Linked DNA regions of Homo sapiens: region 2 is linked to region 1. A link means that fine-mapping ties the variant in region 1 to the expression of a gene that starts in the linked region. Tissue or cell type: monocytes after LPS. Region 1 holds a variant in brackets; the other region holds the start of a gene. All regions are shown on one strand. Distances are from middle to middle.

Region 1 (8,627 bases):
TGTTTCTTTTTACTCTTTTTTCTCTAACCTTGTCTTCTAGCTTTATTTCATTAATTTGATCTTCAATCACTGATACCCTTTCTTCCACTTGATTGATTCAGCTATTGAAGCTTGTGCATGCATCACGAAGTTCTTGTGCCATGGTTTTCAGCTTCATCAGGTCATTTAAGGTCTTCTCTACACTGTTTATTCTAGTCAGCCATTCATCTAACCCTTTTTCAAGGTTTTTTTTTTGAGACGGAGTCTCGCTCTGTCACCCAGGCTGGAGTGCCGTGGCGCGATCTCGGCTCACTGCAAGCTCAGCCTCCCGGGTTCACGCCATTCTCCTGCCTCAGCCTCCCGAGTAGCTGGGACTACAGGCGCCCACCATCACGCCCGGCTAATTTTTTTGTATTTTTAGTAGAGACGGGGTTTCATCGTGTTAACCAGGATGGTCTCGATCTCCTGACCTCATGATCCACCCGCCTCGGCCTCCCAAAGTGCTGGGATTACAGGCGTGAGCCACCGCACCCGGCTTTTTCAAGGTTTTTAGCTTCCTTGCAATGGGTTAGAATATGCTCCTTTAGCTCAGAGAAGTTTGTTATTACTGACCTTCTGAAGCCTACTTCTGTCAACTCGTCAAAGTCATTCTCTGTCCAGCTTTCTTCCATTGCTGGCGAGGAGCTGCAATCCTTTGGAAGAAAAGAGGCGCTCTGGTTTTTAGAATTTTCAGCTTTTCTGCTCTGGTTTCTCCCCATCTTTGTGGTTTTATCTACCTTTGGTGTTTGATGTTGGTGACCTACAGATGGGGTTTTGGTGTAGATATCCTTTTTGTTGATGTTGATGCTATTCCTTTTTGTTTGTTAGTTTTCCTTCTAATAGTCAGGTCCCTCAGCTGCAAGTCTGTTGGAGTTTGCTGGAGGTCCGCTCCAGAACCTGTTTGCCTGGTTATTATCACCAGCGGAGGCTGCAGAACAGCAAATATTGCTGCCTGATCCTTCCTCTGGAAGCTTCGTCCCAGAGGGGCATCCGCCTATATGAGGTGTTTGTCAGCCCCTACTGGGAGGTGTCTCCCACTTAGGCTACACGGGGGTCAGGGACCCACTTGAGGAGGCAATCTGTCTGTTCTCAGAGCTCAAACGCCGTGCTGGGAGAATGACTGCTCTCTTCAGAGCTGTGAGACAGGGATGTTTAAGTCTCCAGAAGTTGTTTGCTGCCTTTTGTTCAGCTATGCCCTGCCCACAGAGGTGGAGTCTATAGAGACAGTAGGCTTTGCTGAGCTGTGGTGGGCTCCACTCAGTTTGAGCTTCTCAGCCGCTTTGTTTACCTACTCAAGCCTCAGCAATGGCGGACGCCCCTCCCCCAGCCAGGCTGCCACCTTGAAGTTTGATCTCAGACTGCTGTGCTAGCAGTGAGCAAGTCTTTGTGGGTGTGGGGAATCTCCTTGACTGCAGGTTGCTAAGACCTTGGGAAAAGTGCAGTATTTTGGTAGGAGTGTCCTGTTTTTCCAGGTACAGTCTGTCATGGCTTCCCTTGGCAGGAAAGGGAAATCCCCCAACCCCTTGCACTTCCCAAGTGAGGCAATGCCCCACCCTGCTTTGACTCACCCTCCTTGGGCTGTACCCACTGTCCAACCAGTCCCAATGAGATGAACCAGGTACCTCAATTGGAAATGCAGAAATCACCCGTCTTCTGCATCGATCATGCGGGAGCTGTAGACCAGAGCTTTTCCTATTTGGCCATCTTGGAACCCACTAGACTTCTACTTTCAAATAATACTTTTCTTACTGTCTGAACCTTTTTTTTTTTTTGAGACAGAGTCTCACTCTGTTGCCCAGACTGGAGACTGTCTGAACTTTTTATTATAATAAGTATAATTATTTTATTTATTTATTTGGCTAAAAAAATTTTTTTTGAGACAGTCTCTTGCTCTGTCACCCAAGCTCAGTGCAGTGGCACAATCATGGCTCACTGCAGCCTCGAACACCTAGACTCAAGCAATCCTTCTGCCTCCCTAGTATCTAGGAATACAGGAATGAGCCACCCCATCATGCTTAGCTAAGTTTTTTGTTTGTTTGTTTGTTTGTTTTGAGACAGAGTCTCCCTCCACTGCCCAGGATGGAGTGCAGTGGCACGATCTTGGCTCACTGCAACCTCCACCTCCGGGGTTTAAGTGATTCTCCTGCCTCAGCCTCCTGAGTGGCTGGGATTACAGGCATGCGCCACCACACCCAGCTAATTCTTTTTTATATTTTTAGTAGAGACAGGGTTTCATCATGTTGGTTAGGCTGGTCTCGAACTCTTGACCCTGTGATCCATCTGCCTCAGCCTCCCAAAGTTCTGGAATTACAGGAGTGAACCACCGTGCCCAGTTGAGCTAATTTTTTAATTTTTTGTAGAGAGGGGTTCTCGCTTTATTTCCCAGGCTGGTCTGGAACTCCTGGCCTCAAGTAATCCTCCCACTTTGGCCTTCCAATGTGCTGTGATTACATATGTGAGAAGTTGAGGTTGGCCGGCTAAGATCATAACATCTTTTTTTTTTTTTTTTGAGATAGGGTCTCACTCTGTCACAATGCTGGACAGGCTGGAGTGCAGTGTTGTGGACATGGCTCACTGCAGTCTTGATCTATTTTTTCTTTTTTTTCCCATAGTATATGTAACCAACCTATGTCACTGCTAAGGCATTCTGTGAGAGACCTGCCTAGGCCTCCTAGGCCCCCAGCTGTCTTAATTTTGAAGATCCTACCAATCATTTTCAAATGCACCCACCCACATAAAATATATATACATATACATACATAGTATACAAATATATTTATTTATTTGCAATAATGTAACATCTTTTTCTATTAAAAATACTTGGCTATAAGTAACTTCTTTAATTTACCAGCAATAATTTCTCAATAATTGTTCTACCTATTTAGGATATCTTGGAAGTGGGAAAGTGTAACTTTTTTTTCTGAAATATAATGACATTTTTATAAATGCTAAATCTATGACTAAGTTAGCTGACATAATGTATTTTATAGACATTTTATTAAATCTTTACTAATTTCTGTCTTACAGTTTACCTTTCAAATTTTGGAGCCACCAAAATAAACAACTTTCAGGTTCTAACATTTTCATAAATTCTTGTAATCCTGTAGACATGTTTGATTCACTTAGAAATGATTGTCGCAGCCTGGGTGCGGTTGCACATGCCTGTAATCTCAGCACTTTGCGAGGCTGAGGCTGGAGGATCACTTGAGCCCAAGAGTTCCAGATCAGCCTAGGGCATCATAATGAGACTTCCTCTCAAAAAAAAAAAAAGAAAAAAAGACCAAGCAAGGTCAAGGTCAACATCATGAAACCCTGTCTCTACTAAAAATACAAAAAATTAGCTGGGTGTGGTGGTGGATGCCTGTAATCCCAGCTACTTAGAGGCTGCGACAGGAGAATCGCTTGAGCCTGGGAGGCGGAGGTTGCAGTAAGCCGAGATCACGCAATTGCACTGCAGCCTGGGAGACAAAAGCGAGACTCCGTCTCAAAAAAAAAAAAAAAAAAAAAAAAATTATAGAGCTCACATTTGCTTACTCATTGCTTCATTCGCTCAACAACTTTTTTTTTTTTTTTTTTTTTTGAGACAGAGTCTTGCTCTATCGCCCAGGCTGGAGTGCAGTGGGGCGATCTCGGCTCACTGCAAGCTCCGTCTCCCGGGTTCACGCCATTCTTCTGCCTCAGCCTCTGGAGTAGCTGGGACTACAGGTGCCGGCCACCACGCCCAGCTGATTTCTTTTTGTATTTTTAGTAGAGATGGCGTTTCACTGTGT[T/C]AGCCAGGAAGGTCTCGATTTCCTGACCTCGTGATCCGCCCGCCTCGGTCTCCCAAAGTGCTGGGATTACAAGCGTGAGCCACCCCGGCCTCAACAACTATTATGTAGTTGTAACATGCCAGATTTGCCCCTTGAATCTGCCCTCACCGGTTTAAGATTGGAATAAAAAGGACGTGTTAAAGGAGAGGAAATGGAGAGGTGACTAGTCAAATGTCTTCTGTATACCAGAGCGTCTATGTGGAGTAGAAAGATTGGGAAGAGGATAAAATTGAGGGTTCTATTGGAAGAGCTCCTCCTTGAGCACATTCTCTAAAGAAGGCCAACCAGCCACTTGAAAATAAGCTAATTAATTTTTATTTATTTATTTTTTCTGAGATGGAGTCTCGCTCTGTTTCCTAGGCTGGAGTGCAGTGGCGCGATCTCGGCTCACTGCAAGCTCCGCCTCCCGGGTTCACGCCATTCTCCTGCCTCAGCCCCCCGAGTAGTTGGGACTACAGGTGCCCACCACCATGCCCAGCTAATTTTTTTATATTTTTAGTAGAGATGGCATTTCACCGTGTTATCCAGGATGGTCTTGATCTCCTGACCTCGTGATCCACCTGCCTTGGCCTGCCAAAGTGCTGGGATTACAGGCGTGAGCCACCACGCTCGGCCTAAAGCTGATTAGTTTTTTTAACTGTCCACCACCAGCCTCCAAGACCCAGAGACTTCAGATCGAAAGCAAATCTCCACCTTCCACATCACTGTTTTAGCAACTGTAAATTGTCACCTTTGCTTTCTATGTTGTGAGGGTTTAGCACGAATAACAATCCCTGAATTAAATAAAAATAAAAATAAAAACACAGACTCTCTTTAAGGTTAACATGTAATATAAATCATGTATAGACAACTATGCCAGCCTGGCCAACATGGTGAACCCCCGTCTCTACTAAAAATACAAAAATTAGCTGGGTATGGTGGCGCCACCTGTAATCCCAGCTACTTGGGAGGCTGAGGCATGAGAATCACTTGAGTCCAGGAGATGGAAGTTGCAGTGAGCCGAGATCATGCCACTGCACTCCAGTTTGAGTGACAGAAAGAGACTCTGTCTCAAAAAAAAAAAAAAAAGAAAAAAAGCCAGGCACGGTGGCTCACACCTGTAATCCCAGCACTTTGGGAGGCCAAGGTGGGCAGATCACCTGAAGTGGGGAGTTCGAGACCAGCCTGATCAACATGGAGAAACCCCGTCACTACTAAAAATACAAAATTAGCCGGGCATGGTGGCACATGTCTATAATCCCAGCTACTCGGGAGGCTGAGGCAGGAGAACCCCTTGAACCCGGGAGGCGGAGGTTGTGGTGAGCTGAGATCGCACCATTGCAGTCCAGTCTGGGCAAAAAGTACGAAACTCTGTCCAAAAAAACAAAAAAAACAAAAAAACCCCACAACTATGTGGTCACTCTTGGTGGTTTATGCAGACAGCTGTGGTGACATTACCCAATTTCAAGGAAAGTTTCTGTGAAATAACATTCATTTGATCGGGGAATGGGGGGCAGACAGGGACTTATAAATACTCACTTCAGTCTCACAACATTCTTTGTGTCATAGGCATGGACTCCCATTTTATAGAAGATCCAAAGAGAGGTTCTGTGCACTTCCAAGGCAAGTGTCATGGAGTCCAACAATCTGGCATTGTGTATGACTGTGGCAATAGGTCCAAACACAGCCCAGCTGAGTCAAGATGCAGATTATTGAGTGCCATGTAAGGATGTGAGTGCCAAGAAGCCCTGGACCTCTTTCCTTTCCCAAACTGTTTGGAAGGCCTTGAGTTAGCACCTATGCCACAACAGTTTTAAAGTGTTGCTTCTTATAAACCTGATTACTATTGACATTTTCAAACATATCAACGTAGAGAGAATAGTGTAGTGAACTTTATATATCCATCACTTGGTAAAGCACTGCTTTTTTTTTTAATTCAAAAACTAGCTGAGTCACATGGGAAGGTCCACGAAAAAAGAGGAAAAGACACAAAGTGCACGACTGGTTTGTAGTCCTAACTGTGCTGTGAATGAACTGTAATGCACTGAGTCATTTATGGTTCCACTCTGGGACTCAGTTTCCTAGTTAACTGAGATGGGATTTCTGGGGACTTTCCAGGCCTTGCATCCTACACTTTGGTTCTCATTCACTCCACATACACTCATGAAGCCACCATTATCTCTTGCCTTAGCTAATCTCCCTTTGCCCATTCCTGCTTCTCTACATTCCATTCTTCTTCTAGCAGCCTAAGAAAGATCAACTTTCAGAAATCCAAATCTCATCATCTGATCACATCATTCGCTGCTAAAATCTCCTCAGTGCTTTCACATTTCTTTCTTTCTTTCTTTTTTTTTTTTTTTTTTGAGACAGAGCTTCACTCTTGTTGCCCAAGCTGGAGTGCAACGGCACGAGCTCGGCTCACTGCAACCTCCACCTCCTGCATTCCAGTGATTCTCCTGCCTCAGCCTCCCGAGTAGCTGGGATTACAGGCACACGCCACCATCACGCCTTGCTAATTTTTTGTATTTTTAGTAGAAACGGGTTTTCACCATGATAGCCAGGCTGGTCTCGAACTCCTGACCTCAGGTGATCCGCCCACCTCGGCCTCCCAAAGTGCTGGGATTGCAGGCATGAGCCACCACGCCCGGTCCACATTTCTTTTCTTTTTTTCTTTTTTTTTGAGATGGAGTCTCGCTCTGTTGCCCAGGCTAGAGTGCAATGGCACGGTCTTGGCTCACTGCAACCTCCACCTCCCAGGTTCAAGCGATTCTTCAGCCTCAGCTTCCCAAGCAGCTGGAACTACAGGCGCGTGCCACCACACCCACCTAACTTTTGTATTTTTAGTAGAGATGGGGGTTTCACTATGTTGTCCAGGCTGGTCTTGAACTCCTGACCTCATGATCTGCCCACCTGGCCTCCCATAGTGCTGGGGTTACAGGCGTGAGCCACCGCACCTGGCAGGCCCACATTTCTTTTAAAGCAATGTTTGAACTGCTTAACAAGCCTATGAGGAACTGCCTGATCTTGACCTCTCTTAGCAGCTCAGCCACACTGACCACTTCCAGCTTCAGCCTCCTTCTGTGTGCTGTTCCAACTACTTGAAGGGTTCTTCTGGGTCTCAGCACCCCACCTATCCCCATTTCACCACAGACACACTTTGCTTGGGCAACTTGCTTTCATTTTTCAGAAATCAGCTTAAATGTCATATCCTCCAGGAAGCATTCATCTGAACTCAACCAAGTCCTGCTAAAGCTATATATGCTCTGTTAGCCCCCAGTACTTGGATTAAGTGGCCCTAAGCACCATCTTAATTAATTAGTTATTTGTGTATTATTTTAATGACTGATTCCCCTAACAGACTGTAAATCCCATAATGTCAGTATTTGCTGTTTTGGTCACCATTACAACTCCAGCACCTAGCACAGTGCCTGGCACAGAATAGCCATTCAAATAAATATTTGTGGACACATGACTAATTCCCTGCTAGGCCTTAGGGATAAAAAGAAGCTCACAATTTAGTGGAGAGTACAGACTGATAAGTCAGTGGGAAGATGAAAACGCATCTCTAGAAGTGCTGGGGGGAAAAGAATGCATGACATCTGAGGAGACCCATGAAAGGGGTGCTTAATGCAGGCTGGGTCAGAATAGGCCTACAGGAGAGGCAACAGTGACTTTGTGGAGGAAATCCATCCATAAGCCTCAAATGCAGAGCAGTATCTGTAGGGAGGGGTGGGGTGACCCTTTAAGAATGTTTAGAGATTCCTACTTGATATTTTCCCTGACTTATTTGGCCTGTAGTCAGGTGCCATCCATTAGAGAATAATCACTGAAAATTTGTCTGCTAGCAAGTTTAAGGTCATCTTGAACTGAAAGTCGAAATAAAATGGACTTAAATGAAATAAGCCAGTCACAGAAAAATAAATACCCTATGTTCTCACTCATACATGGAAGCCAAAAAAGTTGATCTCGGGCTGGGCACAGTGGCTCATGCCTGTAATCCCACCACTTTGGGAGGTTGAGGCGGGTGGATCACGAGGTCAGGAGTTCGAGACCAGTTTGGCCAAAATGGTGAAACCCTGTCTCTACTAAAAATACAAAAAATAGCTGGGCGTGGTGGTGTGAGCTTGTAGTCCCAGCTACTCAGGAGGCTGAGGCAGGAGAATCACTTAAACCCGGGAGGCAGAGGTTGCAGTGAGCCGAGATCATGCCGCTGCACTCCAGCCTGGGCGACAGAGTGAGACTCCATCGCGGGGGTGGGGGTAGTTGATCTCATAGAAGTAGGGAGTAGAGGCTGGGTGTGATGGCTCATGCCTGTGATCCCAGCACTTTGGGAGGCCAAGGGGGAGTTGAAGCCAGGAGTTCCAGAGCAGCTTGGCCAACATGGTGAAACCCCATCTCTCCTAAAAATACAAAAAATTAGCCAGGCATAGTGGCATGTGCCTGTAGTCCCAGCCACTTGAGAGGCTGAAGCTTGAGAATCACTTGAGCCTGGGAAGTAGAGGTTGCAGTGAGCTTACATTGGGCCACTACACTGCAGCCTGGGTGAGAGAGGGAGACTCTGTCTCAAACAACAACAATAACAAAAACAAAAAAAAAAATAGGTTGCAGAATAGTAGTTATTACACCTGGGGAAGGGGGATAGGAAGGGAGGAATAGCCAAAGGTTGGTTCCTGGAGGCAAAAGCACAGCTAGATAGGAGGAATAAGTTACAGTGTTCTATAGCACTACAGGGGGACTGTAATTAACAACAATTTATTGCATATTTTCAAATAGTGAGACCGGCCGCGGTGGCTCACGCCTGTAATCCCAGCACTTTGGGAG
Region 2 (8,627 bases), 27 kb before region 1:
GCACCTATAGTCCCAGCCACTCAGGAGGCTGAGGCAGGAGAACTGCTTGAACCTGGGAGACAGAGGTTGCAGTGAGCCAAGACCATGCCACTGCACTCCAGCCTCGACAACAGAGCCAGACTCCGTCTCAAAAAAAAAAAATTAGCCAGGCACGGTGGTGGGTGCCTGTAATCCCAGCTACTCGGGAGGCTGAGCCAGGGAGGCTGAAGCAAGATAATCACTTGAACCCTGAGGCAGAGGTTACACTGAGCTGAGATCTTGCCACTGCACTCCAGCCTGGGCGACAAAGCCAGACTGTCTCAAAAAAAAAAAAAAAAAAAAAGTTTCAACTTTTTTTATACAGTTGCGCTTAGTATCAGTTCAAACACCCTAAACATAATTGTCTGAAAAATACATTTTCTACAAGTGTTTGCTTTCATAGGAAAATAGTTTCAATTGGTGATAATCCCACCCACCTTTTAAAAACTACCTTCTCACATTTCTTTTTTGTGGACAAAGACAAGTTGTTCCATTTAGGAACTCAATGCTATAAGTCAAATGTTTTAAAGTTTGAGGCTTTTGTTAAGTGGGCATGTGCAAGGTTAATCACTGAGTTTTCCTTTTTATATAAGCCCTCAATTTCTTTCAGAAACTACACTGCATCTTAAATGTGTTCACTGTCACAGAAATAAATACACAAACTTTTTTTTTTCTGTTTTCTTTTTGAGACGGGGGTCTTTCCACGTTTCCCAGACTGGTCTAGAACTTCTGGGCTCAGGCAGTCCTTACGCCTCGGCCTCCCGAGGTGCTGGGATTACAGGCGTGAGCCACCATGCACGGCCAGTCTAACTTGCTGAAGGTAAACCCCAAGTTAGGATATGTACTTTAGTAAGACCACGGTAAGATCTCTTGGCTGTTCCTCTGTGCTTTACATGTAACTTCACATAATCCTCCCAACCTAGATATTGTTACTCCATGGAGAAATTTCTGAACAAAGAGGTTAAACAACTTGTGCAAGGTCACAAAGATAGCAAAATGGAACCTGGATTTGAACCAGAGTCCTTTTTCTCAAGCACTACTTAACTAACCACTCAAGTAACAATCAGAAAAGAGAACTGAACTTATGGACTAGAAAGCTTCTCTTACCTGTATGAGTTCTAACATGCTGAACATAATTGTTTTTTCTGTCTGAAAAATAGTTGCATTTTCCACATGTGTATACTTTCCTTGGAAAATGGTTTCTTAAATGTTTCCTCCAGTGATACTCGCTCACTGTTGTGTATGTGCAAATGATACACTTGTAGACTCGCTCATTATCCCCAGCTCTGGTGTGGTGTTTCAGGTGTGCTGTATAGTGATCATATCGATTAGTATTGTAGCCGCAGCGGTCACAGCGAATGGGGCCCTTGGAGAAATCTCCCTCTTCTGCAGTGGAAGAGCCAGATTCCCTGGCTTTTGCCTGCTTCTCTGCACTCTCTTCCACAAAAAATTTCTTAGCACTGTGAACTCTGATGTGATGCACAAACTGTTCTTCAGATTCTGCTTCATATTGGCATGGCTTACAGCGAAAGGGTTTGGTCTTCGAGCTCTTGCCTTTGTCCTCCGCTCCAGGTGTTTCAGGGGGAAGATCTTTATTTGAACTGTAAATATCTGGAGCACCTGATGCCTCAAATACAGGCTGAGGTTCTACGACGCTGAGTTCCAAACTTCTCAGTTCCATGTTTTCCAGTCCATGAGGTTCACCTTTTATATCAGCAGACTCTTCAAGTCCTTCTCCTTCTTCACTATCTGAAAAGTTGTTATCCCCAACCGGCATCAGTTCTGCCATCTGTCTTTCTTCACCGACCAGGTAATCACAGCAGCTGCCATTTACTTCCCCAGTTAAGGCCACATTTGCCAGCATAATAAGCTGAGGTGCGGCCAGTTCAGCTTTGGAAAGGTCATGCAAGTCATACATGTCGTTAGGCAGGGCCATTCCAATGTTGCCACTGCTGGTAAACAGCCCTCCTCCTCCAGAAGACTGCCCCATTACCTGGGTGGCCATAACTGTATTCTGAATTAAAAACAAAACAAAACAAGAGCACCAGTTTAAACACTACTGTTACTGGCTTAAAACCACATCGCTGTAATTCTTCATAACTTAAAAATTTTCCAGTATGATCTTTATAACTCAGTAAACTTCATCGCCTATTAAAAACAAATCTTTAAAATAGTTGTTAATTCCCAATAGTCTACTGCAATCACCAAAAAAAAATTTCTACTATCCCTATAAAACAATTCTACCAATTGTTTGCACAACTCATTCATCATTCAGCCACTGGCATGTGGTGCCTCCTCAAGCACTTTTAATTGTTCTGGTGGGGATAAAAAGTAACCTTCATTTTTACTGTTAAAATTATTTTAAAAATTCAAAACATGAGTAGTAAATTATTGTCCTCCCAACTTTTCCCCCCTTCAACAGTTCAATGGTCTGAATCAGAAAGCCCAGAAATCCACAAGCCATTCAGTGCATTTATTAAGTACACAAACACATCTGGAAAGTACAAGCCTGTAATAATTGTTCAACTTAATTGGATTTCGCATGAACTCAACTAACTCCAAAAGAATAAACTACTGTGAAAAAGTAGCAGTCAGCCCCTTAATTTTTCGACAACTCCACAGGCTTAAAAGAAAAAACATTTATGGACCCCTTTTCTTGTGAAAAAGGAAGTTTGATTTATTCAAAACTTCACAAATAAAAATTAATAAGCTTATTTTTCTGCAGGCTGAAGTTCCACAACACTGAATTCCAAGCTTTTCAATACGAATAAAATCATCGTGCAACTCAACTCGACAATCAGCAACTTTCTTGCATTGTGCTTGACTTGGCCTACTTGCCTAGTGGAAGCCATTACAAGATCACCTTCTTCAAAACAAGTTGGGCTTTCTAGATGCTACGTTACTTCTCAATCTAAAAGGTGCCATTCTCAAACGAAGTGTTCACTCGCAAATTAAAAAAAGTAAGAAGTTCTAAGAAAATAAAGTTAAACCGAAAATACAAAAAGTAACCCGCTTCACCCAAGTGTATAAACACAAACCGGTTTAGTTCTACGTACCAACAAAAGTTGGAAGCAAATGCCATCACAGAAAACAGAGGGCGAAGGCTGTCCCGGGGCTGAACAGCCCAAGCTATTGGGTAATTTGGCCCAACATCGACTTTTCTAATTGCTCCCTAACCCCTAACTGCCACCCCAAATGGAATTTTAACGATTGTTAGGAAGACCGTCCAGGCACAGCCCGAAAGCCCAACGTGCTGCACGAATTCCTCCGTGCTGCTGCCACCAGCGCCTGCCTCGGCGGCGGCATTCCTAACTGAAATAGGCATTCGGCCATTTTCTCAAAATACCAAACACAAAGCAGCTCTTTGCAAACTCGGGCGCTCTCGCTTCCTCTCGCCTCGGCCCGCTCACTGCACACATTTACACACCAACTCGCGGGAGTCGCCCCGACACTCGTCCTGAGCCTTTTCCTGCGCTCTCCAACACTAAAACGGGGGAGGGGATCAAGCTCGAGGCGCTGTTTGGCCGGAACCAGTCCTCCCCGAGTCCAGGCAGCCCCCTCCCCAGCCCTAGGGCCCCCGTCCCGGGAGAGGACGGAAAGTTACCGCGCAGCCGGCGTCCGGGCTTCTCCGACCGCCCCCGGGCCCCTCCGACCGCCCCGGGGCTCGCCCAACGCCCAGGGCCGGGGAGGCTCCGCGGGCGCCCTCGCGAGGCGTCGGGCTCCGAGCGCCGGAGGGGGCCCCCACACGGGCCAGCCGCCACCCCCGCGCCCCGGAAGTTTGCGAACTTCACTCCCCCACGGCGCCCGGCAGGACGCGCGCCCCAGCCCCGCCAGCTCCAGCGGTCGGGTGGCCGGACGCGGGGGCCAGCGGCGCCGGACGGCTGAAGCGCAGAAATCGCTGTCCAGCCCCGCAGGCGGAACCGCCCGGGCCCCGGGGCTGACTCAACCCGCCCGGCCGCACTCAACGGCGCCTTCCGGCGACAGGGAGAGGCCCTGGGGGAGGGGGCCAGGAGGGCCGCGGGCCGGCGCGGGGCTGCGGTGGGACCCGGGGGCAGGAGGAGGAAGCAGAGGAAGTTTCAGGACTACGGGCCCGAGCAGCTCCGCTCCTTGGCCTCAAAGGACCTGACTCGGTGGAGCGTCCGGGCCAGCGCGGAGGCGGCGTCCCAGCCTCCAGTGGGGAGGGGGTCCAGGCGACGCGCTGCTCCCAACAAACGCCCCCAGCCCCCGGGCGGCTGCTGTGTAACCCGATCCTGCTCGGCCGCCAGCCCCCGCCCGGCGGGGCCGCCGCCGCCGGAGCCACAGTATCTGCAAATCAGCCCTGGACAGCGCCTGACTCCGCGTCCTTCCGCGCCCTCCCCGTCCCGCCACTGCCGCCGCCCGGGCGGCCCTCCCCCACCCTGACCGAGCCCCCAGCCCAGCGCCCCACTTACCGGCCTTCCTCGGTGAGGAGGGGCGGGCGACCCTGAGTCGCCGCTCCTTCTCCGACTACTTTTCTTTGTTGCTGGAGTTTCGGGGGAGAGGTGGGGGAGGGTGGTAAAGTTGGGTGCTGGGGCCGTCGTGGACCAAGAAGGCCCAGGAGTGGGGCTGCAGAGGGTGCTCAGGCCTCCGGGCCTCGCCCTGCCGTCTCGGCTGCGGCAGCCGCCGCCAGGGTCTGGGGCCCCGGGCCTCGGCGGCGCTCGCTCCGCTGCTGCGCCGCGAGCTCGCGGCAGCCGCACATTCCAACACAGGACGCTGCGCCGCGCACCCAGTCCGCGCCGCCGCCGCCGCCACCGCCCGCGGGACACGCCCCCTCCGACGCCCGCGCGCGCCCGCGAGACACGCCCCCTCCGACGCCCGCGCGCGTGGCCGCTAGGCGCGCCCCGCCCCTCTACCAAGCAAGGAGTGCCCCAGTCTCCAGCTCGCCTGGGGGCGCGTCTAGGGGGAGCCGCCCGTAATCCTCCCGGCCCCTCACTCCTGCCCTTAGGTCAGAAAAGAGGCGGGCCCCACTCCCTTTCTCGATTTCTATTACAAACAAACAACAAAAGTTCCCCCCAGCCCTGGCGTGCATGCATGAGAATAGAGCTGTTAAAAGAAGAATCCGCAGGCTTTGACGGGTCTCTTTAGAGCTATTGTCACCGGCCTCTCAAGTCTAAAGCGCTCCAAGATACCCTTCAGATCTCTTCAAGTCTCCACCCATAGCTGTCCTTGACTAATTAAGCTTCGTTTTAAGCGTCTGCGGTAAAAAAAAAAAAAAAAAAAAAAAGTCTTCCAAATTTCAAACTACCGGAGGGGGAATGCAGTCAGTTTGGGAGAAGTGAGAAGAAAACGTTTCAGGAAGGAGGTTATGGACTCAGAAAGCGTGAGCGTGAGGACTGAGGGGACAGATCCCTAGACGTGGCAGGTAGCAGGTCATTGCTGAGCCCGGAAAGCACGACTGCAGGGGAGGAATTACCCTCAGATGACAGAAGAAAAGGTGGTGAGGACGGGGAGGCTGCCTGGGGCCACGGTGTGTCGGAGTAACCGGGCTCACGTCTATGAAGCGGGATAACCAAGCGGAATGCCTAGCCCATAGTCATGTGCTAACAAAAACAAAAACAACAAAAAAGAACAGAGAGAGAGTAATTCCACCCCCTTTCACACCTGAAAGAGCTTCTCAGTCTGCCTTTGATACCTTCCTAAACGTCAGTCGTAAGTCACACCTGTCCTCAGAAGCATAGTGGCTCCCCATGACTACAAGCTTAAAGCTTAAACCCCTTAGTGTGGCGTTCAAGCCCCTACTTAACTTGACCTAGATAAGTCTGACTATTGCTTGGTATTACAACATAAGTAGCAAGTGCTATGGGGGTTTGCCAGTAGGAAGATGGATCCCAAGAGGTTCTAGAAACTTTTCACAGTAGATGTATTCAGTCTGACCTTGGAGAATGAGGAAAACTTCAACAGGTGGAAAGTAGGGCAAGGAACACTCTACACAGTGAAAAGGGCAAGCTCAAAATCCCAAAGCAGTTGTTAAGACATCCCAGCTTCTCCTCAGGGTACCTCACTTCCTTCTCTTTGAAGTTCCTTTATTTGTTTCTCTTAGGGCAGGGCTTCCAGACTCTTCATTTCCTGGTATACCCACGTAGGACCTCTGTTTCCCTCTATCTGGACAATATATTACTAATTAATGCAGTCTCCGATGCAAGATGAAATGAAGACCCTAAGGTGCTCGACCACCAAAAGTTTCAATGAGGCAATTTCAAATGTAACACCTCTCCATGAATCAAACCTGAAAAGTATTCATTTTCATTGAACCAAAGAGACAGGAAGGAAGGGAGGGAGGGAGGGAGGAAAGGAAGATCGACATTTTTAGGACTGGTACAAACTTTTCTATATATATTTTATTTGTTTAACTAAAATCAAGTTTGAGGTCACATGGCTTTTTTAGATGCTGTAGCCCAGGGTACAATTCAGGCCTCTACCAAGGTTGTCAAAGACATAAACTTGTTTTCTTTCCCTTTTTTAGGTCCAAAAAGGCAAAAATGAAATGTCTCTTGTTAAACTTACTAAATGTCCTTCATTTCCTCAATCTGACTGCTTACTGGAAATGTCTTATTAATTGCAAATTTATTCCCACATATTGTGATGCAAATAGAAGAATGGCGAATGGGCAGCTGCATTCATTTAAAATTAGCAGAGGCCCTTGTTCAAGGGATGGCATATTCAGAGTGACCCAAATTATCATGACATGAAGGCCACAGGTCAAATTCATAGGCCAAATTACAAATCAATTGAAAATTTTCTTGAGGGAAGCTGTTGCTATGAACTTGAATTCCTAACTGTTTTTCAAAAGTCTGTATTTTACTTTGCTGTATCCAAACTTTAGGATCTTCTGCAAGATAAAAACTCTGAAATGAGAATGAGTTCTGCTTTTCTTATATGGTTTTTTTCCTGCATATTTAACTCATCAATTTTTTTATTTTAATTATCATATGTTCTTAATAGTATTTTCTCTAGAGAGATTTCTTTCTTTTTTTTTTTTTTTTTTTTTTTGAGACAGAATTTGGCTCTTTTTGCCCAGGCTGGAGTGCAATAGCACGATCTCGGCTCACCGCAACCTCCGCCTCCCGGGTTCAAGCAATTCTCCTGCCTCAGCCTCCCGAGTAGCTGGGATTACAGGCATGTGCCACCACGCCAAGCTAATTTTGTATTTTTAGTTAGAGACGGGGGTTTCTCCATGTTGGTCAGGCTGGTCTCGAACTCCCAACCTCAGGTGATCCGCCTGCCTCGGCTTCCCAAAGTTCTGGGATTACAGGCGTGAGCCACCACACCTGGCCAATTATATATATATATATATATTATTTTTTTTTTTGACATGGAGTCTTGCTCTGTCACCCAGGCTGGAATGCAAAGGTGCGATCTCGGCTCACTGCAACCTCCACCTCCCGGGTTCAAGTGATTCTCCTGCCTCAGCCTCCCGAGTAGCTAGGATTACAGGCACGTGCCACCTTGTCTGGCTAATTTTTGTATTTTTAGTAGAGATGGTGTTTCACCATGTTGGCCAGGCTGGTCTTGAACTCTTGACCTCAGATGATCCACCTGCCTGGGCCTCCCAAAGTGCTAGGATTACAGGTGTGAGCCACCCCGCCTGGGAGTCTTGCTCTGTCGCCCAGGCTAGAATGCAGTGGCAAGATCTTGGCTCACTGGAACCTCTGCCTCCTGGGTTCAAGCAATTCTCCTGCCTCAGCCTCCCGAGTAGCTGAGATTACAGGCACCCGCTAGGACGCCCAGCTAATTTTTGTATTTTAGTAGAGATGGGGTTTCACTATGTTGGTCAGGCTAGTCTCGAACTCCTGACCTGAGGTGATCCACCCGCCTCGGCCTCCCAAAGTGCTGGGATTACCTGTGTAAGCCACCGAGTCCAGCCAGCATCATCTACTCTTGCTGCCGGTTGGACTCTGACCTCTTGTTCTGGTTCTGATAACTGGAATAGTGTCTTACTCATTATAGGCATCAACAGCTTGAGCCAGGGAGGTTTTCCCTTCATGCTGAGAAGGGAAGGAGGTGAACAAGAGAACTTGAGACTTGAGCTGGGCTCCTTCCTGCCTTCTTTTGGAGCCTAGATCACATTTGGAACCCGCTCCCATTTTCGTCCAATCCTAATGCCCTTCCCTGCTGTTTCTGCTCCCATTTTCGTCCAATCCTAATGCCCTTCCCTGCTGTTTCTGTCTCTAACATTTATTACTAACATGCTAGGTATTTTTATTTATTTACCCTACTTAGGAACTTAAGCTCCAGAAAGGCAGAGACATTTTTTTATCCCCAGCACCTATAACTCGTTAGTTGCTCAACAAATATTAGTTAGATGAATGGTTACAAAATCCTAGCTTGGTATCACAATCTCTCAAAGTGGGGACCATCCTTACCCATGTCGGTACCCAACGTTCAGTACCCATCACAGTCTTCCCTCATGTTAAGCATGAGCCTGCCTCCTTGAATCTCCCTAATAACTACTGTTAAATAAATTAATGCTCCTGGATCCCTGGTCTTGGGGTTCTACCCTCCTGGTGAAAATCTCCCTGCCTGCTCTTCTGCATATTGTATTCCTAGCACATTCCTGATTTCACGCATCAGCCTCTGGTTGGATATTCCTT

Direction of the effects. Positions count from the first base shown, and alleles are read on the strand shown. Sizes are in standard deviations (SD) of each study's normalised expression.
For the expression in monocytes after LPS of the gene that starts at base 4,762 in region 2, C is the high allele of the variant in region 1 and T is the other (large effect, 1.2 SD a copy in Quach 2016).

The links. PIP is the estimated chance that this variant, and not a neighbour inherited with it, causes the effect.
Region 2: REST starts here. The variant in region 1 is fine-mapped to the expression of REST in monocytes after LPS (Quach 2016, PIP 0.92).

Annotation. Positions count from the first base shown.
Region 1 is chr4:56,877,426-56,886,052 of GRCh38, reverse strand. No RefSeq gene overlaps it. Among named protein-coding and RNA genes, the nearest start is that of REST, 26 kb to the left of the region's middle. The variant T/C (reference allele first, on the strand shown) is at 3,789.
Region 2 is chr4:56,904,035-56,912,661 of GRCh38, reverse strand. REST (RE1 silencing transcription factor) reads right to left here and starts at 4,762. Exons shown (of 4, transcript NM_005612.5): 1 at 4,449-4,762; 2 at 1,126-2,032. The coding sequence starts at 2,023. RefSeq lists enhancers at 2,516-3,445, 4,376-5,305 and silencers at 3,536-4,385, 4,496-4,885, 4,985-5,279.